Linked DNA regions of Homo sapiens: regions 2, 3 and 4 are each linked to region 1. The links come from fine-mapping of genetic effects on gene expression. A gene starts in region 1. Each other region holds a variant in brackets. All regions are shown on one strand. Distances are from middle to middle.

The links. PIP is the estimated chance that this variant, and not a neighbour inherited with it, causes the effect. A credible set is the group of variants that fine-mapping cannot tell apart.
Region 2: its variant is the best candidate, but not a certain one, in a credible set for the expression of PRDM4 in whole blood (TOPMed, PIP 0.85).
Region 3: its variant is the best candidate, but not a certain one, in a credible set for the expression of PRDM4 in whole blood (INTERVAL, PIP 0.64).
Region 4: its variant is the best candidate, but not a certain one, in a credible set for the expression of PRDM4 in whole blood (TOPMed, PIP 0.77).

Annotation. Positions count from the first base shown.
Region 1 is chr12:107,757,705-107,764,163 of GRCh38, forward strand. It overlaps PRDM4 (PR/SET domain 4), which reads right to left and starts at 3,433. Exons shown (of 12, transcript NM_012406.4): 1 at 3,253-3,433; 2 at 2,801-3,067. The coding sequence starts at 2,811. It overlaps PRDM4-AS1 (PRDM4 antisense RNA 1), which reads left to right. Exons shown (of 5, transcript NR_120474.1): 4 at 571-688; 5 at 2,068-2,264. RefSeq lists silencers at 2,984-3,093, 3,144-3,723.
Region 2 is chr12:107,628,796-107,633,795 of GRCh38, forward strand. The region is part of intron 11 of ABTB3 (ankyrin repeat and BTB domain containing 3); the gene reads left to right. Among named protein-coding and RNA genes, the nearest start is that of PWP1, 55 kb to the right of the region's middle. RefSeq lists an enhancer at 2,632-3,831. The variant T/C (reference allele first, on the strand shown) is at 2,319.
Region 3 is chr12:107,736,364-107,742,822 of GRCh38, forward strand. It overlaps PRDM4 (PR/SET domain 4), which reads right to left. Exons shown (of 12, transcript NM_012406.4): 9 at 5,858-5,985; 10 at 4,583-4,897; 11 at 3,020-3,188. It overlaps PRDM4-AS1 (PRDM4 antisense RNA 1), which reads left to right and starts at 192. Exons shown (of 5, transcript NR_120474.1): 1 at 192-584; 2 at 1,659-2,126; 3 at 2,764-3,301. The variant G/A (reference allele first, on the strand shown) is at 3,548.
Region 4 is chr12:107,682,882-107,689,340 of GRCh38, forward strand. PWP1 (PWP1 homolog, endonuclein) reads left to right here and starts at 2,918. Exons shown (of 15, transcript NM_007062.3): 1 at 2,918-3,090; 2 at 5,567-5,625; 3 at 5,734-5,921. The coding sequence starts at 3,019. RefSeq lists a silencer at 40-297 and enhancers at 2,727-2,986, 3,207-3,256. The variant G/A (reference allele first, on the strand shown) is at 2,788.

The DNA.
Region 1 (6,459 bases):
TTTCATTGCACCAAACTTTTTTTTAACTGCACCAAACTTTTTTTTTAACTACAGACTATTTTTGGCAAGGTGAAGAACCTAGGAATCACCTTTTCTATGCAAACCATCTTGCACTGCCATTACAAATGTCTTTCGAATAAGAGTAATACTGATTTGAATAAAACAGCACTGAAGGTTGTTATCAAAAAGTATTAGTTCTTATATCATAATTTAGAGACTGCCATACTATAAACATTACAGAACCACTAGGCTAGCCAACAGGTTACCCAAAAGGGGCTCTCTAATGACCTCCAGTCCTTACACTGGGCTTTATTCTCTGCGTATGGGAGGGGGTGAAGCAGAGAAGAGGAATCAAATGAGGTTACATATTCCTTAGCAGTGAAATCAAATCTAAATAGGTTTTTAATTCTGAAAAATGGCAATGCCATTTTATCAATCAACCTGAAAATAATAATAGCTAAAATTTATGGCTCCCTTACCATGTGCTATGTATTGGGCTAAGTGATTTATATGTAACTATCTCTCTTAATCTTCTTTTTTTTTTTTTTTTTTTTTTTGTTTTTGAGACAGGGTCTTGCTCAGTAGCTGCAAGCTGGAGTGCAGTGGCGTGATCACAGCTGACTGCTGCCTCTACCTCCTAGGCTCATGAGATCTTCCCACCTCAGCCCCCAAGCAGCTGGGACCACAGGCAAGTGCCACCATGCCTGGCTAATTTGTTTTTATTTTGCAGAGATGGGGTCTCCCTATGTTGCCCAGGCTGGAGGTAGGTATTATTCTTAATCCCACTTTAAAGATGAGGAAACTTAAGATTCAATGATGCTAGGAAACTTAACCCAGAATCACATAACCAGTAAGGAGAGCTGGGATTTAAATTCAGAACTAATTTAAGAAACCAAAGCTCTTAACTATAGTAAGAAAAAGACAATTACAATAAAAGAACTATATTGCCTTTTACACAGTTGCAATACATTAGGGCCTATCTACTTATATTGTGGCGTATATTTAAAGTTCCACATAGACCTGTTTCTTGCATTATTAGGTTTCACCCTTATCCCTGGCCATGGATCCCATAAAACTAAGCTCTAAGACATCAATAAAATGTAAAAGGCCAACCTAGTACCTTGTATAGAACAGACATTCTGAATTTTCTTATTTTATCGGATGGAGCTATGCAAACTCATCACCCTTACCAGAAAGACAGCTAGAAGCACCTGGCAAATGAGGTACACCTTATGAAGAACAGCATGCTAATAACAGTTTTTATTATGCTATAAAATAAAGCAGCCCAGGTGTGGTGATTTACACCTGTAATCCCACACTTTGGGAGGCCAAGGCAGAAGGATCGCTTGAGCCCAGGACTTGGAGACGTCCCTAGGCAACACAGTGAGACCCCTGTCTCTACTAAACATTTTTTTTAACTTAGCCAGGCATGGTGGTTCGTGCTTGTGGTTCCAACTACAGGGGAGGCTGAAGTGGGGAGGTCGGGGCTACAGTGAGCTCTGCCTGTACCTCTACACGCCAGCTGGGGTGACAGAGTGAGACTGTGTCTTAAAAACAAAAAAAGCAAAAAATCCCTGTAGCCTAAAGAAAACATATCTACCTTAATTTTGAAAGTTGCTGGGCTTGAGTTGGTTTAAAACAGACTTTTCCCTAACTCTTTATAGCTACAACCATAATTAAAACACTACAATCACTACAGCTGTAACAGCCTACTTAACAAATTGGTTACAATATTTTTTTAAAAGTACAACTACAAGTCTGCACCTTCAACTCTCATTCTGAAAATTCCTGAATATTTATTTAATTTCAAGATAAAAATCAGCATGGTGTTTCTAGGTTGACTCCTAGGCCTTCTCAAACCAGTTCAAACCAGAGTTTAATGCGAGAGGCTCAGCAGATTTCTGCTTTGTTGTGAGTCACTAAAACGTGATGACCTCAGCAGCCATAAACCAAAGGTAATGAGTATCCCACAGAGAGAAGGCAGATGAAGGGAATGTACAATATGATCCTCATAAGACTTTCTCATTCTAAAATGCAGTTCTATTCTCATTTTCTTTCTCCTATGAGATTCTAAGAAGCAATCCCGGAAGAAGGCAAGAATCAAGATACTAAGCTCTATCTTCCCTACTCATTTAGGGTAAAATAATTTCCTACACAGTTCTACAGTTTATGTGTGTGTTTCTAACTGACCTATGCAACCATCTGCCAGTTGCTGATTTTACACCTTTTTCTTCGCATAAAATATAATAAACTAACTGAAATGCAGCCACTTTGAAAAATGCAGTGGGGCTTCAATAATTTCAATGAATTTGTGCCTTATCTTCCTTATTCTAAACATACGGCCTTTGAAAGGGCCTTGAAAAAACAGCCAAATGCAACAATTTCTGTGGCCTGCTTCTGTACTTAAACATCAGCATGAAGCTTGCAGAATTAAGAACTTAATTCCCTCACTATCGTCCCTGCCATACCAGCAAAACTCAAGGTGAAGCATAATAAGATAACAATACACGTTGGAATCCGGAAAAATATATTAAACGCTCAAATAACTGAAAGACACAGGAAAAGGTGTCAACAAGCCAACAATAAACGTGTGGCTACTGGGAACAACTTTCCACATGTGGAGTAAATTAGGATGCATGAGATTACATTCCACCCAACACTAGTTTCTGGATTTGTTTCCTTTGCAAATCACACCTGTAACCTTCTCAATGGCACCAAAAACAACGGCACTGACCCTGGACACTCACTCGCCAGAGTTTCCAACGATGTCACCAGTGCTGAAGCCCACCTCCCTACTCACCTGTGATGCATCGGCTTGGGGCCAAATATCAGAGAAAGGAGCGCTCGGGTGGTGGGGAACAGGCATCAGGGTTTGCGTTCCAGGGTCACGTGCTACCACATCTTGCTCACAACCGCTGCACCGACGCGGCCACTCGTCCCCGGGGTCGCCCGGGGCCGCCCAACTTCTCCCGAGGGCCGGTGGCCGTGCACCCCGCCACGGGTTGGGGCATCTCGGGGAACACCTGGGGCCTTCCGTCCAGAAGCTTCGGGAAGGGGGCTGCCCAACCTGGGGGAGTGGGGACAAGAGCGGTCACCAAAACCACAACAAGGTCGCAGCCCCCATCCCAGCTACCCGAAAGCCCCAGGCGCTGCCGACACCGCCACCCAAGGGCTGTGGATTAGCCCGCCCGCGGCCCGCAGGCCGGGCCGCCGCGCCCCGCCCCGCTCCGGCCGGGCCCGCGCGCAGCCCACCTGCCAGCTGCGCTGGGGGCGCACGCGCCTGCCCCACTGCTTTGTTCCTCATCCGGGCAGAGTTCGCCTCGGGGCCCTGCCCGTCCGCTCGGCCCCCTCACCCCGGGGGCCGCTGCCCTAACGTTTCCCGTCCCGCCCGGCCCTTCCCGGCCCGCGGCCTCCTCTGGGCCGCACCCTCTGCGGCGCGTTTCCGGATCCTCAGCCACTCTCAGCGCCCGCCGCTCCGCCCCTCGTGCGTGCGCCCTCCCCGCCGCGGCCCGCAAGCGGCGCCCGCGCACCGCGTCGCCCTTCTCCCAGCCCAGGCCCCTCCGCGCGTGCGCACGGCAGAGGCACTGGCCGCGAGAGGCTCGGCCGGGAGTTCCGCGTCTCCATCCGGCCGGGTAGAATCGAGCGCCGAGCGATCGGCCCATGGTTGCTAGGCGACCAGGGCTGCTGTTCCTGCAGGGATTGAGTTTTGAATCCCCTAAATCCCGCAGACTCAGGATTTCGTCTTCATGACATTCCCCTACTAGAGAAGCATGGGTCCACACAAAGCCCCCAAAATTCGAAGTATGGGATTTGGCCCCGAGGGTTGCCTCTGCTGCCCAGGAGGAATTGGGATTCTATCCTGAATATTTTCGGCCGTCTGCTACACCTGAAGGCTGCCCAGTTTCCCTGCTTCCCGTCGTAAATGCTGGGGTTTGGGATTTTAAACAAAATTTCCTTCCCCTTTTCTCTGCCCTCAGTTCTCTACTGCGCGCCAGGCACTGTGCCTAACGCTAGGAGTACCGAGATGGCTTTAAAGGAAGGTGGTCCCAAGCTCCTGAGCAGTAGACGTTGAAATTACACCACACTGCCTGGTGGCTCCCTTACACCAGCAGAACAGCAGACCCAGGAATTCTTCCTGTCATTCACAAAGCGTCTGTTGAATTACATCTCAAACCTAGGGATACAGAGCAAGGCACAAGCCCTGACCTTCACCTGCCTGCAGTCTAGTGGGAACTGATGAATTTTGAAAATTCAGTCTAATGTGAAAGGGTAGAGGCACATGCAACCTTTTGGACGAGAGCTGGGAGGGGTGTCAACCCCCATAATGTTTCCCTTCGTTTACTTCTCATGGGGGGAAAGCACATTCCAGATGAGGAAACTTCACTGAACATTGGCAGGCAGGTCACATTGGTTTTGCTCTCTGTTGACAACAAATAGAAATCTAAATCAAGAAGGTCATCATCTCAACTGAGAGACAGTATTCCCTGAAATGCCACTTCAAATCTGGAGCCTAGAGAATGATGATGTATCTTATTACCGGCCGAATGCTTTCACTAGGTTTGGGTTTGGATGTCTGTTCTTTTGGAACAATTTTATTAAGTTGAGAGGTGAACATAAAAATCAGGTCACATAAATGTAAGAGCTAAAACCATAATACTTACAGAGGAAAATAAAGGCAAAAATCTTTGTGACCTTGATAGGACAAAAAAATCACAAACTATTAAAAAATTGGAGCAAGTGCAGTGGCTCTCTCCTCAGCACTTTGGGAAGCTGAGGTAGGAGGATCGCTTGAGCCCAGGAGTTTGAGACCATCCTGGGCAACAAAGTGAGACCCTGTCTCTACAAAAAATAAAAAAAATTAGCTGGGCATGGTGGTATGCACGTGTAGCCCCAGCTACTTGGGAGGCTGAGACAGGAGGATAGCTTGTGCCCAGGAGTATGAGGTTGCAATGAGCTAAGATTGTGCCACTGCACTCCAGCTCAGGTGACAGAGAGAGACCCTATCTCAAAAAAAAAAATGACAAATCGAACTTCATCAAAATTAAAATGGTTGATCTTGAAAAGATACTGTCAACAAAATGAGTCAAGTGAGAGACTGGGAGAAAATATTTTCAAAACAAATATCTGACAAAGGATTTGTATCTTGACTATATAAAGAACCCTTTAAACACAATAATAAGAAGACAATTAAATTTAAAAACTTAGGCAAAAATTTCAACAGCCATTTCACCAAAGAAGCTATATGGATGGCGATTAAGCACACAAAAAGATGTGCAGCATCATTAGGTATCAAAGAAATGCAAATCAAAGCACAATGAAGTGATATTACACACTTACTAGAATGGCTTCAATTAAAAAGACCAACTATAACAAGTGTTGGCACAGATATGGAGCAACTGGCACCCTCACATTTTGTTGGTGGGAATGCAAAAAAAATGCCACAGCCATTTTAGAATTTCTTTCTTTTTTCTTTCTCTCTTTTTTTTTTTAGACAGAGTTTCACTGTCACCCAGGCTGGAGTGCTGTGCTGTGGTCTCAGCTCACTGCAGCCTCTGCCTGCTGGGTTCAAGTGATTCTCCTGCCTCAGCTTCCCCAGTAGCTGGGATTACAGGTGCTCACCAGCATGCCTGGCGAACTTTTGTATTTTTAGTAGAGATGGGGTTTCACCATGTTGGCCAAGCCGGTTGCGAACTCCTGACCTCAAGTGATCCACCTGCCTTAGCCTCCCAAAGTGCTGGGATTACAGGCATGAGCAACCATGCCTGGCCAGCAATTTCTTATACCTCTTATACCATCCAATTCTCCACACTCCTTAGGTATTTACCAAAGAAAAATAAAAACATATGTACAAAGACTTGTACGCCAATGTCCATAGCTGCGTTATCTGTCATAGGCCAGAACAGGAAATGACCCAAATGTCCATCAACTGGTAAATGAATAATGATAGTGTACAGTATCTATACAGTGGAATACTCAGAAATAAAAAGGAACAAGCTGTTGATACATGGATGGATCTCAAAGACGTATTATGCTAAGTGAAAGGAACCAGACACAATAGACTACATATTATGAGTCCAGGTATGAGAAATTCTAGAAAAGGCAAAACTGTAGTAATAGAAAGCAGAGAAGTGATTGTCAGAAGTTGGGAATGGGTTGGGGGATGAGATTGCCTACAGTGGGGGCATAAGAGAACTTTTAGGAGTGATGAAAATGGTCTTGATTGTGGTAGAGGTTACACAATTGTATACATCTGTCCAAATTAATCAAATAGTAAACTTGACATTGGTGAATTTTATTGTATGTAAAAATACCTCAAAAATTCAATTAAAAAATTATGTCAAGATTAACAAAAATTGAAGTGTTCTGACTCTACTCCCCAGACTAGGCCCACTGTATGCTCTCTCATAGTACCTATCTTTATTGTAATTAATTGTTTAATTTTCTATTTTGCCAAATACA
Region 2 (5,000 bases), 130 kb before region 1:
TATTTTTAATCCTCTTTGGAAAAGAACACCAAGGCCCAGAGAAGCTGAGTAACTTTGCCAAGGTTACAGAGCTAGTGAGTGAAGGGCCAGAACTAGGACCCCCTCCATCTGGTCCCATTGTTTATGTTTTTACCACCACATAGAACTCCAGCCTGAGCCACCTATAAAGGACCTTTGGGAGTAATCCTAGTGCTCCTTTCAGAAGAAAAGGAAGTATTTCCACATCTTTTTAGGAGAAGAGTGGAGTCAAAGGAGAAGAGGAAAGATGTCACCCCCCAAATTCACAGGACTCCATCTCAAGAGAGTTTCCTGGTAACTATGCTATTAAGAATTTTGCAGGGCCAGGCGTGGTGGCTCATGCCTGTAATCCCCGCACTTTGAGAGGCCGAGGCAGGAGGATCTCTTGAGCCCAGGAGTTCAAGACCAGCCTGGACAACATAGTGAGACCTCATCTACACACACACTAACACACACACAATTAGCTGGGCACAGTGGTGCACACCTGTAGTCTCACCTACCTGGGAGGCTGAGGTGGGAAGATCACTTGAGCCCAGGAGGTCAGGGTTGCAGTGAGCTGGGGTTGCACCATTGCACTTCAGCCTGGGCAACAGGGAGAGACCCTGTCTCAAAAAAAAAGAATTTTGCTTCACTCCCCTTTAGTTCTTTTGTATGACCACACAGTTCTGAGTCCAGAGGACCTGAATTTACTCCATGTGCACATCTAGAATTTTCTGTGAGGGACTTGAATGGCAAGTACCCAGCAGCATGCCAGTAACATGCACTAACCGGGTACTGTGTCCTCAGGCCTGGCCCCACCCCCACCCACCCACCCTCCTGGACTCATCCTGGCCTCCCAGGTCAGACCCTGCATGTGAAGACCAAATGGCCTGCTGCCCTGAGACTGCAGCCTGTTATCCCTTTGGCCTAAAGCACTGTGCTTAAATGTGCTGCTCAGAGAATCCAGGCATCTGACCCAGCACAACCACCACTCATTCCCGCCTCCAGAATGGAGCAAGCCTCAAGTTTGGTTGCTTCCATTCCATTGTCTTTGGGTTTTGATCCAGGACTTACCAAGCCCATAGGATAACCCAGCTTATCATCACAGTCTGACCTATGGATCTCACCCCCTGACAGCAGTCACCTGATACGAATGACACCACCCCTCACACTCAAAAGGGCCCTCCTGGAGTTCAGAATCGTATTGGGTCCCAGGTAACCAGGACAGATGACACTGGTGCTCCACTGCCTGGAGGAGGAGCACTGGGAAGGGCACAGGGCAGACACCTCCACAAACATGGACAGATTCAAGGATGCAGCGGGGAGTTTTCTCTTAGGACTCTGTTCCTTGAAAAAGAAGCGGCTAGAAAGCCTCGTAAAAGGCAGCATCTTTGGTGCCACCACGGCGTAGCACCCTAATCCTCTGCACAATGTCCAGCTCCCGGGAACCAGCCAGTGCTTGGCATTTAGTAGACGCTCAATAAATATTTGGAGAATGAATGAATGAATGAATGAGTGAATATGTAGCTTAGTGAGTGGGGAAACATTCCCTAAACCTCTGGCGAATGAATGGATGAAGTGTAGGGAGCCCCCTGATGTTCAGTTAAAGCCTCCACCCTCCCTCTTTCTCTCTTCTGAACTTCTACTGCTTCCATTATAATCATATTTCCATGGTAGGAAGTTTTTAAAATTTATTTTTAGAGGTGGGGTTTTGCCATGTTGCCTAGGCTGGCCTCAAACTCCTGGGCTCAAGCCATCCTCCCACCTCAACCTCCCGAGTAGCTGGGACCATAGTCATACACCACCATGCCCAATTAAAAAAAAAAAAATTTAAAGACAGGGTCTCATGATGTTGCCTAGGCGGGCCCCGAGCTCCTGGGCTCAAGCAATCCTTGGCCTCCCAAGCAGCTGGGACTATAGGCATGCACCACCACACCGGGTTTTTAAAATAGATTTTATTTTTTTAGGCCAGTTTTAGATCTACAGAAAAATTGAGAAGATAGTACAGAGAGTTCCCATATACCCCCTCACTCACTTTTCCCTATGATTAATAGGCTATATTACTATGGTACATTTGTTATAATTAATGAACCAATATTGATACATTATTATGAGCTAAAATCCAGACCTTATTCAGAGTTCCTTAGGGTTTTGTTTTTGTTTTTGTTTTAGATTCACAGGGTTTATGTGTGGGTTTGTTACATGGATATACATGATGCTGAGGTTTGGGCTTCAATTGAATCCATCACCCAGATAGTGAACATAGGGCCCAATGGGTAGCTTTTCAGCCCTTGCCTCCTTCCTTCTCTCTCTCCTACCTC[T/C]TTTGGATCCCCATTGTCTGTTGTTCCCAACTTTATTTCCATGTGTACCCAGTGATCAGCTCCCACTTACACGTGAGAACATGGGGTATTTGGTTTTCTGTTTCTACATTCATTCACTTAGGATAATAGCCTCCAGCTGCATCCCTGTTACTGCAAAGGACATGATTTCATTCATTTTTATGGCTGCATAGTAGTCCGTGGTGTATATTTACCATGTTTTCTTTATCCAGTGCACCACTGATGGACACCTTGGTTGATTCCATGTCTTTGCTGTTGTGAATAGTGCTGCAATGAACATGTGAGTGCAGGTAGGGTCTTTTGGGTAGAGTGATTTCTTTTCCTTTGGGAATATGCCCAGTAATGGGATTTCTGGGTCCAATGGTAGCTCTATTTTTAGTTCTTTGAGAAATAGCCAGAGTTCCTTAGTTCGTACCTGGTGTCTTATTCTGCTCCTGGATCCCATCCAGAGTACCACATTACACTTCATTGTCATATCTCTTAGGCTCCTCTCGATAGAGGCAGTTTCTCAGACTTTCCTTGTTTGGGGTGACCTTGAAAGTTTTGAGGAGCACTGGTCAAGCATGTGTAGGCTGCCCCTCTAGTGGAATATGCCTGATGTTTTTCTCATGATTAGACTGGGGTTATGGATTTTTCAGAGGGAAACCCTGGAGAGAAAGACACCTTATCAAGGGCACATTCCATCAAGGTGAGTTATCACTATTGATGTTGACCTGAGCCACCTGGCTGAGGCAGTGTTTGTCGAGTTTCTCTACTGTAAACTTCCTCTCTTCCCCTTTTTCCATACCGTCCTCTTTGGAATGCAGTGAGCATGCACTGCCCTCACCTAAAAAGTGGGGAGTTGCACCTCCCCCTGACCATTGTTACGTATTTGAAGATTGTCCATTTGGAACAAGCATGGCCAGCCCTTATATTTACATTCTCAGATGATAGAGTACACACTGAAGTTAGAAAGAGAGGTCAACTGTGAGTTCCAGCAGAGGAGGGGTCTTGCCTTGCCTGCTTCTGTGGCCCCAAAAGAGTGCCTTTCACACTGCAGGACACCTCTTCCATGTTTAATCAATACCTCCTGAATCGAGTTAAACCACCACCGCTGTCCGCCAAAAAAGAAAAACTCGCAAAAGAGTCTACAGACTGTACATGCCTCTCTCAAGGGCACAAGAGTCCAGGAAATGGGTTCTTATTGCTTCACTCGGAGTTGATTAGAAGGAAGCTGATTCACCAGCAAGATGCACGAGACACACCCTGGTGTAGATGAGTGAGACCTCATCCCTAACCTTCATAATACAGTCTGTACAAAGCATTTTTGCAGATAACAGGTCTTATCTTTTTTATGACCAGCCAGTACTTACCACGTGTCCACTATGTGTCTGGCACTCTGGATCACAGAGATGATGAAATGTGGTCCAATAGATGTAAACTTTAGATGAGATGTGTTAGTTTTCTATTGCTGCAGTAACAAATGACCATAATTCAGAGGCGTAAGGCAACACCTGTTTATTATCTCATGGCTTCTCTGGGTTGGAAATCTGGGTGCAGTGTGACCCAGCTGGGTTCTCTGCCTAGAATCTCAAGGGCAAAATCAAGGAGTCAGCAGGATTGTGTTCCTTTCTGGGGGCTTTGGGGAAGAATTGCTTCCAAGCTCTTTCAGAGATTTTTGGGTAGAGTTCAGTTCCTTGTGGCTGTAGGACTGAGGTCCTACTTCCTTGCTGACTGTTGGTGTCACACTTAACTCCTAGTGTGGTTACCTGAGTCCCCTCACGAGCTTGCCATGTGGCCCCTCCATCTTCAAGCCAGCAACAGAGCATCAAGTCCTTCTCAGACTGGGATCTCTTTGTCATCTTGTTCTCCCCCCTCCCGTCTGAAGTCCTTTTCTGCTTCTACTTTTAAGGGCTCATGTGATTACTTTGGGCTCGCCCAGATAATCCAGGATAATCTCTCTATTTGAAGGTCAACTCATGAGGAACTGCTATGCTCTTGAATGTTTGTCCCCCCAGAATTTAAATGTTGAAGTCCTAACCCCCAAGGTGGTGATATTGGGAGGTGGTGTCTTTGGGAGGTGAGTAGGTCTACAAAAGACACCCCAGAGGAGCCTCAGCACCCCTTCTACCACGTGAGGACATAGCTAGAAGGCACCATCTATGAGAAAGTGGGCCCTCACCAAACACCGAGTCTGCGGGCACGCTGATCTTAGACTTCGTAGCCTCCAGAACAGTGAGAAATAAATTTCTGCACTTTATAAGCCACCCAGTTTAGAGTATTTTGTTAGCAGCCCTAATGGACTAAAGCACTAACCTTAATTACTCCTGCAAAGTCGCTTTTGCCATGTAAAGTAACGTGTTCATGGTCCCAGTCCCAGGGGTTATTAGGGCATGCAATCTTCTAGGAGGCCATAATTATTCTTACCACACAGTGCTTCTCAAGCATGAATGTGCATGGGAGTCACCTGCAGAGTGTGTTAAAAATGCAGATTCTGATTCAGTGGGCCTGAATGAGAGTGTGCATTTCTTACAGGATCCCAGAGGATGCTACTGCTTGTGGTCTATGGAGCACGTTTTGGGTGGCAGGGCTTTAGGCCAGAGGAAACAAATTTATAGCCCACAGCCCAGGTCGAACCCATGACAGAATTTCAGTGCATGGAACCTGTGGTTCTCAAACTTAAGG
Region 3 (6,459 bases), 21 kb before region 1:
TTTGAGCAGAAACCTGAATGGAGGGAAGAAGACATGCAGGCATCTGGAGGGAGAAGTTTCTAAGGCAGAGGCCCTGAGACTGGATGTGCTTAGTATGCTCAAGGAGTAGCAAGGGGAGGGTCAGAGTGGCCAAAGCAGAATATGAAAAGTAAGAAAAGGTGAAGGGAGAGGTAGCCAAGTACTATTACATCATAAAGGGCCTTCTGACTGCTGTAAAAAGCTTTTAACACAAATACGATGGAAAGCCACCAGAGATGTATGAGTGGAGACAGGCACAATCTGACTTATATTTGAAATGGATTGCTCTGGCACTGCGGACAGAAAACTGTGTGTATGTGTGTTCATCTGTGTTGCGGAGTAGATGAGGAGAAACAGCAAGTAGTGGCAGGGAGATCAACTGGGAGGCTACTGAAGCCATCCATAGAAGAAAAGCTGGTGGTCTGGACAAGGTGTTAGTTGAATGAAGGAAGGAAGGAAAAACTGAGTTGAGAATTACTTCAAGGTGTTTGGCTTGACCATTGAGGTGAATAATGGTGGTGCCATTTAATGAGCTGCTCAGCACTGGAGGAAATCAAATTCATGGGGTAATACTGGGTTGAGTTTTGGACACATAAGATTTAAGTTGCCTAGCGAACATCCAGCATCAGAGCCGCTGAGTGATGGTGAGGTGTATGAGGGTGGAGACATAAATCATATGACGGTATCTAAAGCCATGAGACAAGATGACCTGGGGAGTAAACATCACTGTTCTTCTGCTCACTTCCTCTTTCTTACAGGAAGGGCAAAGCCAGGTTCTGTCACCACCCTTCCACTCTCGGGGGACACTAGGGGGGGAACTCCTCTTGCATTTGGCATTAGGGCTGTAGCTGTTTTTTTTAAGTAGATAAATAAAAAGACTGCTAATACTACTATATCCACTTTGAAATGCCCCAAAGTAAAAATACAAGCATCTGAAAATTTTACCAACGATCTCCATAGGAAGCCTAAAGCCTCATTCAAAACCATTTTGAGGGAACAGTGCTTCTTATAAGAATGACTTATACCAGCTTTAAGTTTTGACAGTCCAAAACCTTCTTTCTATCCCATGAAAGTTTGGCAAAGAGGCTTACCATATCTTCTCACCCTGAAAAGGAGTCCAGATCCACATTTGTTAAGCAAAAGTAAAATGAAAGGATAGAGGCTGATATCGACTTGATTCAAGCAAAACTTTTCCTCAAACTATAATTGTGTGATCTTTAAGAAACAATATATCCACTTGCCAGAGACATTGTGGAAATCAATCTTGCATGTGGATGAAGTCAGTAGTCCTTAACCCTGGCTGGCCACGAGAATCACTTGGGGAGCTTTTTAAAATACCAAGGCCAGAGCTCTAACTCTGACCAATTAAATTAGAATTCCCATGGATGGGGTCCTAGCACCAATTGTTGTTTTTCACATTTTCCAGGCAATTATAATGGGCAGTCTTCTGGACAAATATTTGTCCCCCCTCACCCCAAATTCACATGTTGAGGCCCTAACACCCAGTGTGAGGTGGAGCCTTTGGAAGGCAATTAGGGTTAGATGAGGTCATGAGGATGGGGCTTCCATGATGTAGGATTAGTGTCCTTATGAGAAGAGATTGGAACTCTCATATTCTTTCTCTTTCATTCTCTCAACAGAAACGTATTTTCTCACAGTCCTGGAGGCTGGAGTCAGAGATCAGGGTGCCAGCCTGGCTGGGTTCTGGTGGGGGCCCTCTTCCAGGCTTGCTCATGACTGCCTTCTCTCACTGTGTCTCTCCCGTTGTTTGAGCCACAAAATCTGTGGTATTTTATTATCACAACCTGAGCTGCCTAGACAGGATGTTAAGACTAGATGATCCGGGGATCTCTTTTGGCTCCAATATTGCACAATTTGATGTAATATTTGATAATTTCTGTCTAATTTTGTAAAATTTCATGCTAGCAATGGAACTAAAGAAGTCTTTGTTTTAGAATATCCTTCTGAGAGTTAGGAATGTAGATCCAGGCTCCTTGGCTGTTTAGCATCTCAGGCTGCATTGTGATAAGGAAGCAGACAGAAGAACTGGTATCAAAGCCAAGTGTTTATCCAAATTCTACATTAAGAATATAACGTTTTCAGTGAAGGTAAGATTTCTAAAGAGAATTTCCATAACATAAGCTGAAAACATTTTCTTCCTCTTCTGACACTTGTTAAAAGCTAAGGACAACAAAATCCATCTCTTCTTTCTATGACCACTGTGACTAATGCAGTCTAGACATTTAATTACACTTGGATTCATGCAATAAATACCTAATTGGTCTTCCAATATTTAGGCTTCCCCACCCTCAATCATCCTCTGTTCAGCTGCCTAAGTAATCTTTGTATTAACAGAATGGGTATGTCACTATGACACTCCTTTCCTTAAAATCCTATAGTGCTTGCACAACAACGTGAATATAACTAACACTATTGAACTGGGCACTTACAAACAGTTAAGATAACAATTTTTTTTTTTTAACTGCAATTCAGACAAACACACACACACACACACACACACACACACACACACCAACAGAACAGTTCCAAAATGGCAGGGGCTGGCAGATCCTTCAGTGTCTCGCCATTATTTCTGGACTGAAATTGAATTTTCTTAATAGGACCAAAGGTTCTCCATAGTGTGGCTGCTGACTCTTACTCTTCTCACTCCATCACTCTCTCACATGCACACTATCGTCTAACTATAAGCAACCACTTGCAGTCAATAGTCCTTTTTGTCTCTAGGTTTTTGTAGATGTGAAAAAAGAGTACATGTGAAAAGTAAGAAAAAGAAAGCCAACAACTGAAATCTTCCAGGATAACACCAAAAAAAGTGTTCCAACCTTGGCTTGGCTACATGGAACACAGAAGGCATCTACCATGGTACCAAGGCATGAAACAGATGAGCCAGGACTCCCCAGCCCTTCAATCAGCAGGTGGGCTGCAGCCACACAAAGGCTCACCACCTGAGGAACGACGTCTTGGCTGCAGGGTAACTTACTGAGTGTGGATGAGCACGTGCTGCTTGAGGTCCTGCCTCCGCATAAACAACTTGTCACAGTAATCACACTTAAGATTCTTCTCCCCAGTGTGGATAACCATGTGGGACTCCAGGTGAGCCTTCTGGGTGAAAGACTTGTCACACAAGGTACACCTGTAGTTCTTCTGACCTGCAATCAGCCCAAAGTATTACACCGTGAAGAAAACAACTGCTGGCATCCCCAAGACACACAGGCACACATATGTGCATGCAGCAGAGGCAGGAATGAAACAGAGCTGACTGGTAAGCAGCATTTTACTTTCTAGGGTTGTCTATGTGAGACCACTCAAGAGCTCCTGAGTTTATATTCTGCAACTAAAGCTAGTAAATTAATTTGATCTCCTTTAGGACCTCTGACCTAAATATGTATTTTTAAAAAATGTATAGGTGATACATAAAACTTGAAAAAAATGACTTATAATCCTAATGCCCTAACACAAACATAAAGAAAAAAAAAAAAAACTCATGAATTCTAGGACGTGTCTATAG[G/A]GAAACATACTTTTACAAGATAGATTTTATAGTTTTCTATCTTTTTAAAACATATAATATTGCCTCAAAACCAGGGATGAAACAAAATCCTTCCAAGAATGCAAAAATAAGATTCCTCTAAGGGGTCAGCAAACCTTCTCTTAAAGGATAGATAGAATTTTAGGCTTTGTGGGCCATAAGGTCTCTGTTGCAAAAGGATGGGGAAGAAACTTTTGAAGATCTGGAGAAAAGATGACCCCAACAAGAAAGCTAAAGCCATCAGTTATTTTGTAGTATTTATTAAAAAAAGTTAGTGGCCAGGCATGGTGGCTCAGGCCTATAATCCTAGCATTTTGGGAGGCTGAGGTAAGCAGACTGTTTGAGCCCAGGAGTTCAAGACCAGCCTTGGCAACATGGCAAAACCCCATCTATATTAAAAATACAAAAATTAGTCAGGTGTGGTGGCGCATGTCTGCAGTCCATGCTACTCAGGAGGCTGAGGTGGGAGGATCACCTGAGTCCTGGAGGCAGAAGTAGTAGTGAACCAAGATGGTGTCACTGTACTCCAGCCTGGGCAACAGAGTGAGGCCCTATCTCAAAAAAAAATTTTTTTTTTTCTTAAAAAGTACTAAAAGAAAGGTGTTGGTTTGCATGGGATTTAGAAAATGGAAGCTCAAAAAATAAACTGTGGCAATATTTATTGAGCAATAATATTAAAGGAGAGAAACTGGCTCTGGCTGGTGACTGGGGGGTGAGCTCTAATGAGAGGCTCAGACTCAGACTCAGAAGCTTCTATTTAAGACCAAACACATTGATCAACTTCCTGATTATTAAGTGCATTTTCCCAGGCACCTTCCAACTATGGTGGGGAGACCTGGAAAGCAGAACATCCTAATAATTGGAAGTGACAGCCTCCAAGGAATCTCAGTTAAACCACGAAGGTTTCTTTCTCTGACATCAAATCTCAACTCCACCTACAATCCCTCTACAAAGCCTTTACTACCGCATTTTCTAATTGTTGCAAAAATTCCATTCTGATGGGCCAACACAACTTACCTGTATGTATCTTGAGGTGGGTCCGCAGGTTGCTGGGATCACTAAAAGCCTTGCTACAGAAATCACACTTGTGGGGCTTCATACCCATGTGACCCATAAAGTGGACATGAAGTTTGGAAGGAGAGATAAAAGCTTGGGGGCACATTGAGCACTTCCACTTCCTTTCTTTGCTGTGACTTGGCCCATGGCTGCCGCTATGTCCCTGGGTAGGAAGATGGTTATGGATGTGGCTGGTCAGATGGGCTTTGAACTCTGTGTAAGAATTGCACTCCTTGCCACAGTTACAGAGATGCACATCTGGGTGTTCAGGAACACCTTTTAAAAAAAAATTACTCATTATCTCCCAATACTTGAATCTTAAAACTTGTTCTTGATATTAACAATCATTGCTTCCAGTTCTCCTTTCTCTCCATATTTCCAATTTGCCCACTTCCTATAAAACTAAAATAATGTACTAAGGGCATCTAAAATAATGTACTATGGGCCAGGCACAGTGGCTCAGGCCTGCAATCTTAGTGCTTTGAGAGCCCAAAGTGGCATGATCATTTGAGGCCAGGAGTTTAAGATCAGCCTGGGCAACACAGCAAGACCCCATCTCCATAAAAAAAAAAAACTTAAAAATCATTGGCTGGGCATGGTGATGTACACCCATAGTCCTAGCTAATCAGGAGACTGAGGCAGGAAACTGCTTGAGCCCAGGAGTTGAAGGTTATAGTTGGCTATGACTGCACCACTACACTCCAGCCTGCCAGAGTGAGACCTTATCTCTAAATACACACATACATAAGTAAAATAAAATAGTGTACCAGGCACAAAGAAAGCACTTGGTAAATACTGGATTATAAGGCCTCTTTTGTAAGCAAAATATTTAGGTTTTATAGCATACCCAAACTCTTAAACATTAGCTGTCATCATGAAACAGCACAGCAAAGAGAAAGCATATGCAGGTTAAATCAAACCGAGGGACTTCGCTGTCCTTCATGAATTTATATCTCAATGGTGCTAGCTCGAAAAGTAGCCTAAGGAACTTCAATGCCCCAAACCAAAGTCCTACCATAAAAGACCGTATCATATGAATTATTGCTTGGTCAATAACATTCAGCTTGTGAAGAATCTCACAGATTTTAACACCTCAAATACAAGTAATAGTTTGCATTTATACAAACAAAGGTATATGATTTGCTTCAGCTAACATGTAAATCATTACCAAAACTTTAATCCTGGTCTTTGGTATTTTTACTAAGCCAGATTCATTATAAACACATATTAACTTACCAATCTGTTGAGCATAATCTCGGCTATAATAAAAAAGCAGTTCATTTTCAGGAGGGATATCTTGTGAGGTGCAGAAAAAGATTTTTCCATCATGAGGATAAGCCACCAAATTCTGCTCTTCCCGGTTCCTGAGTTATCACATTTAATAGATCAAGCACATTAATTTTGAAATGCATACTAAGTACAACATTCCCCCATTGCAAAATCCTATATGAAAGCTTAGGCAGAACTATTTACTATTTCCTCTGGAATGTTTTTGTAATTTCCCGTCCTATCTATGAGAAGGCAGTTGTAGAGAAACAGAATTCTTACTTCAACATATTAGCTGATGACCTTTTGTAGTCAAAAACACTACAGTCTGTTATTGGAAGCAAACAAGATAAATAAAATGAAGTCTTTAAAAAACAGTATGACAAAGACATAGAGCTAGCTAGCTAAACAAGAATTAACTCCAGTAACTCAGGGGTGGACTAACAGCCAATATAAAGAAAAGGCACCCACTTTCAAATTCAGTGGTAACTATATTGTTCCTTGGTAAGTGCCTTTTTTTTTTTTTTTTTTGAGACAGAATCTCACTTTGTCACCCAGACTGGAATGCAACA
Region 4 (6,459 bases), 75 kb before region 1:
AGCTGCTGCCATCACTGGGACCACAGGTGCATACCACCATGCCCAGCTAATTTTTTTATTTGTAGAGACAAGATTTTGCTGTTTTCCAGGTCGGCCTCAAACTCCTGGGCTCAAGTGATCCTCCTGCCTTGGCCTCCCAAAGTGCTGGCCTCTCAAAGGAGGGCAAAGTGGATTTAGGCCGAGCCACGGAGCCCACCCTAAATCTGTCTCTTTTTAAAAATGGCAAATTTTGTGTTATGTATATTTTACTATAATAAAAATTATGGAAGGATTTTTTCTTTTAAAGTTAGTGGTTAGAAACAATCTTTTACTAAGCTCACAAATTCTGGGGGTCAGAAATTTGGGCAGGGCACAGTGGGGATGTCTTGTCTCTGTTCCATGATGGCTGGGTCTCAGCTGAGCAAGCTCAAACGCTGGGAGTGAATCAATGTCTGGGAGCTGGATTCACCTAAAGGCACTTTCATTTACAGGTCTGGGTTAACTCAAAAACTACAACTGTCTACTGGAGTACCACATGTGGTCTCTCCATGTGGTTTGGTTTCCTAACAGCATAGTGGACTCAGGGTAGCTGATATGGTTTGGGATCTGTGTCCTTACCCAAATCTCACCTTGAATTGTCATAATCCCCATGTGTTATAGGAGGGACCCAGTGAGAGGTAATTGAATCATACGGGCGGCGTTTTCCTGTGCTTTTCTCATGATAATAAGTCTCATGAGATCTGATGGTTTTATTAATTAATTAATTTATTTTTATTTATTTTTATTTTTTGAGACAGAGTCTTGATCTGTTGCCCGGGCTGGAGTGCAGCAGTGCGATTTCGGCTTACTGCAACCTCCGCCTCCTGGGTTCAGGTGATTCTCCTGCCTCAGCCTCCCAAGTAGCTGAGACTACAGGTATGCACCACCATGCCCGGCTAAGTTTTATATTTTTAGTAGAGACGGGGTTTCACTACGTTGGCCAGGCTTGTCTAGAACTCCTGACCTTGTAATCCAACTGCCTCGGCCTCCCAAAGTGCTGGGATTACAGGCATGAGCCACTGCACCCAGCTGAGATCTGATAGTTTTATAAAGGGGAGTTCCCCTGCACATGCTCTCTTCTTGCCTGCTGCCATGTAAGACATGCCTTTCTTCTCTTTTGCCTTCTGCAGTGATTGTGAGGCTTCCCCAGCCAACTGAAACTGTGAGTCCATTAAACCTCTTTTTCTTTATAAATTATCATGTCTTGGGTATGTCTTTATTAGCAGTGTGAGAACAGACTACCACAGTAGCCAAACTTTATATGGTGGCTCAGGGCTCCAAACATTAGTGTTCTACTGGTGGGCAGTGGGGGAGTGGGTGGGGGGTGTGGAAGTGGAGAAGTGGGTGTGGTGGTGGGGAAGCAAAACCTGCATCCTATTTATGACTTAACCTTGGAAACATCATTTCTGTCATACTTTATTGGCCAAAGCAGACCTACAACTACCCAGATTCAAGTTGGTGGGGGCGGGGGGGGGTGCTTTGATGGAGGAATATCAAGATCACGTTGCAGACAAACATGTGTGAAGGACTCTATTGTTGCAGCCATCCTTGAAAAATATTATCTGCCATATGGTCTTTCTAAAATGGGTTAAAAGCAAAGAAACCACAGAAGAATCATCTTACAGAAACAGAGCAGGGGGAGAAGTCTTAATGGACAAATAATCTGCCTACACAAACAATGAGCAATTTACTTCTGGGAGGATCTCTCCTCAGGCAGGGAGATTGCCAAGCGCATTAGGCTGAGTAGAGTTGGTGACAGAACTCATAGTTGTATCAGCTCCTCTGTGTGTGATCTGAGTAGGAAAGTATTTGACTACTGGGGACTCTAGCTTCATCTTTAAAACAAAGTGTTGTGAGAACCAAGTAAAATACTGTATAGAAAGATAAATGTGTTGCAAAAAGGTCCCCGAATAGAGCCCACAGGTGGACACCCCCCGTTTGACAATGCCACTGGGAAAGACCATGTGTACTGCCAGTTTATCCTTGCCACTGTTTCCCCATAGCAGCCACCTTCCTGTTTCTTTTGCTTGCCTCTCTCAGAGGTAGATGCATTGAGGGTAAATGACCAGGACAGGGCCACACAGCCAAGAGATCAAAACCCAGATTTTTCTGGGATGCTAGTTTGAGATTTTCCATTCTACAAACGTCCAGCCACTCACGAGTTCTAACAGATGACTGATCTTAGCTGAGAAGCATGACATAGATACAAGGGAGTCACACTGCCCGGGTTCATATCCCAGCTGCACCGCTTACTAGCAGTGTGACCTTTGGAAGGATCGCTGTTTTCCCAGGTGTAAAACGGAAATAAGACCTCCCACAAAGGGGTAAGTAATCACGTGATACGGCACTCAAAACAGCGCCTTCAACATAAGTAAGCCCTTTGTGTTTGCCAAGACTAAATCACTACTGCATAGTTAGTATATAATTGGTGCTAAATGTTTTTTTCTCACTTTTTTTTTTGGTGCTAAATGTTTTAAGGTGAGAAAGTAACATTTAGGGATGTAATGAGATGTAATGGTGGGATCTCCGTGAAACGACAAATTCATTTTGGAGAAAGCTTTTTAAAAAACGCAAACCACAAACCTCTGCCATTTGTCAGCTTGAAGTCTACGGAACTGCAAGCAAAATAAAGATTGGTGAAACTTTGCTTCTGACTGACCCCTACAGTCCCAAATATTTTCTTGGCCTTTACAAAGCCCGCAGGCATCGTCACATGCAGTCCTGAAAAGCCTTTTCTCTATACTTCACACAGCCCAGACCAGCCCACGT[G/A]GATTCCTCGCCCGGCTGCTTCCGCTTCCATTTTGTCCCCTCCTATTTCTCATTCGGCGCCTCAGAATGACGTCTGAAATGAGCGCCGACGCTGCCCAAACAGGAGCCTGCGCATGCGCTCTGCCCTGGCAGCGGCCCTGTGCAGATCCCTGAGCGTGTGGCAGCAGTGCGGTCGTGGTCCCTCCCTATGCAGCCTGGTTTCTAGCGTGACACGCCCTTGACTTGAGGACCATGAACCGCAGCCGCCAGGTGACGTGCGTGGCCTGGGTCCGCTGCGGCGTGGCCAAAGAGACACCAGACAAGGTGAGGCCTGGTCGCTGGGAGACAAGGGGAGCAGCGTCTTTACGGCACTGGGGGTCCGCCCAGCTGGGGGAACGTGGACCCGGAACTCGGGGCGTTGGCTGGTGCGACTGGCTGGGGTGAGGGCGGCTTTGCCCGGATTGTCGCGACTAGAGCTGCAGTTCAGAAGGTCTGGTTCGCCTGAGCCTGGAGAGTCAAGGGCCGCGCCTTCTCACTGTTCCCACCCTCAAGCCCAACCCCACTCCCAAATTCGCACGCACATGGACTTAGCGGGCCGGAAAGGGGTGGGCTGCTGTTTTTGGTGGGTAATACCCCAAAAGGCTTTTTGACAACACCACTAGCTTCACTAGCACCCAAGTGCATTTTCAAGCATAACTGGGAAGAGAGCATGAAAACTCCACTTTCCACTCTTGTGCTCCGTGTCTGAAGGAGTGAGGATGAATGTGGTGTAGAAAAACTGGTGTGGAGGCTAAGATGTCGTGAGGCTGGGAGATGAATAGGGAATTTCTTGCAGTAATCCAAGTGAGATGTTGATGGTAGCAGGGAGGATGAGAGGTAAATGTCTAACACATGAAAAACCTACAAGAGTTGGAGACTGAGACTGTAGCAGAGGTGACGATTACTTAAGTAATTTCCTCATTGGATACTAAGTGCTTTCTGTAGGCCAGGCATTGTTCAGGGTCCTGGGATAGGCATGAACAAAATAGAAAAAGTCCCGCCGGGCGCGGTGGCTCACGCCTGTAATCCCAGCACTTTGGGAGGCCAAGGCGGGCGGATCACGAGGTCAGGAGATCGAGAGCATCCTGGCTAACACGGTGAAACCCCGTCTCTACTAAAAATACAAAAAATTAGCCGGGTGTGGTGGTGGATGCCTGTAGTCCCAGCTACTCGGGAGGCTGAGGCAGGAGAATGGCGTGAACCCGGGAGGCGGAGCTTGCAGTGAGCCGAGATCGCACAGCTGCACTCCAGCCTGGGCGGGCAACAGAGTGAGACTCCGTCTCAAAAAAAAAAAAAAAAAAAAAAAAAAAAAAATAGAAAAAGACCCTGCCTTTATGGAGTCGACATGTGCACATATAGTATGTCAGTGGGAGTTAAGTTCTACCAAACAGTAAAAGGGGTTGATTTGAATGTACTTGACCAAGATAATGATGATGGTGATAGGAATGTGATTGGCTTGGACATGGAGTTAACAGGAATGACGGATTGGAGTAGTCCCAGTAGTTGTAAATTCCACCTGGGCACAGACTGTTTTATTTACTGTTTCTCCAGGGTTTGGTTGATGGTAGGCACTCGGTGTTACATTTATAGAATAGGGACAGAAAATTATTTCATATAAAAATTGTTGGAGGAAACAGTTATTAAAAAGAGACATATAGCCTTTCAAATACTTGAAGACTGATTTCCAAATGAATCTACACATTGAAAATCTCACACTTGGGGAGGTTCAAAAAATACTGATGTTTATGTCCCACTCCCAAGTATTGTGTTGTAATTAGCCTGTAGTGTAGCCTAAATTATTTAAGATTCCCTAGGTGATTCTGATGTACAGATAAGTCTGGGAACCACTATTTGAAGAGTTTATAGGAAAAAGAGATTGAATTTATGAAATCCTAGAAAGGAAAACTTGGACCAAATGAGAGAAATTGGACAAGCCAGTTGCGGTGGCTCGTGCCTGTAATCCTAGTCATTCAGGAAGCTGAGGTGGGAGGATCGCATGAGCCCAGGAGTTCACAGCTGCAGGGAGCTGTGACCATGCCACATCTCTTAAAAATTAAAATTAAGGCCGGGCACGGTGGCTCACGCCTGTAATCCCAGCACTTTGGGAGCCCGAGGCAGGTGGATCATTTGAGGTCAGGAGTTCCAGACCAGCCCGGCCAACATGGTGAAACCCAGTCTCTACCAAAATACAAAAATTAGCTGGGCGTGGTGGCGCGTGCCTGTAATCCCAGCTGCTCAAGAGGCTAAGGCAGGAGAATCGCTTGAACCCGGGAGGTGGAGGTTGCAGTGAGCCGAGATGGCGCCATTGCTCTTCAGCCTGGGCAACAGAGCGAGACTCCGTCTCAAAAAAAAAAAAAAAAAAAAAAAAAAAAAAGAACAGAGGACTCATGTAAGGGTGATTTGTTAAGGAATGCCCACAGGGAAGAGAGGGAGAGGTGCCCTAGACAGAGTCAGAGATGGTTGGAAGAAAACCAGACGAGTACCACACAGCCACTTTACCAAAACCAGTCTTTGGAGTTTTAAGACTAAGAGGTGGAGTAGAATGAGCATGATTTTTGAAGTTTCAGGTAGCGAGAGATCTTATTTGTAAGAATCTATAAAATCTATATTTTTTAATATAGAGTCTGGATTGATGTTTGATTCTTATCTTGATGACATTGCTTGGCGTTACATTTTACATTTGTTTGCAAACTACTTTTTAATTCAAATAATTTGATGATTTCCTTACACATATTGTAATGAAATCTTTGCTCTCTTACAGGTAGAGCTGAGTAAAGAAGAAGTAAAACGCCTCATTGCTGAGGCAAAGGAGAAATTGCAGTAAGTTTAGGACCAGATGAAATCTATATCTTAAATGATGATGACCATGTGGTCTTGTTATTAGAAGGTAGCATTTGGGTGATTCTCTTTTTCTTTCTGTGCTCATAGAGAAGAAGGTGGTGGCAGTGATGAAGAGGAGACAGGCAGTCCTTCAGAAGATGGCATGCAGAGTGCACGCACCCAGGCACGCCCAAGAGAGCCCCTGGAGGATGGTGACCCAGAGGATGACAGGACGCTTGATGATGATGAGCTGGCTGAGTACGACTTAGATAAATATGATGAGGAAGGTGACCCAGGTTAGTTTATCCACTTCTGATGGTTTGTAATTACAAGCTCAATATGTTGGATCATGTTTGTGGTGTTCCAAAGCTTTACTCTTAGATTTTATTGTTCTTGACATCAGTAAGATAATCTGGTTGAAGACTTGGGCAGACAGCATGATTCCTAAACTAGTTTAGAAGATAAACTCTAACCCACTAAGATACAAATCTAGGATCTAAAAAAAAAAGTACTGTGTATTTTATTGCATATATCAGGTTTAATAATCTGTAACCCACTTGTGAGTTTTTGTATGCAGTTATAATGCTATGGTGTGCTTGAACTTATATCCATATACCTTTTCCTCAACTGCAGTCAGTCTTCTCACAATACAGTAGTCCCCCCTTATCCACGGTTTTGCTTTCTTCGGTTTCAGTTAGCCACAGTCAACTGCAGTCTGAAAATAAGTGAGTAAAGTACAGTACTTTGGGAGAGATGACTTTCACATAACTTTTATTACAGTATATTATCATTATTTGATTCCTAGGTACATATAGGAAAAACATAATGTATATA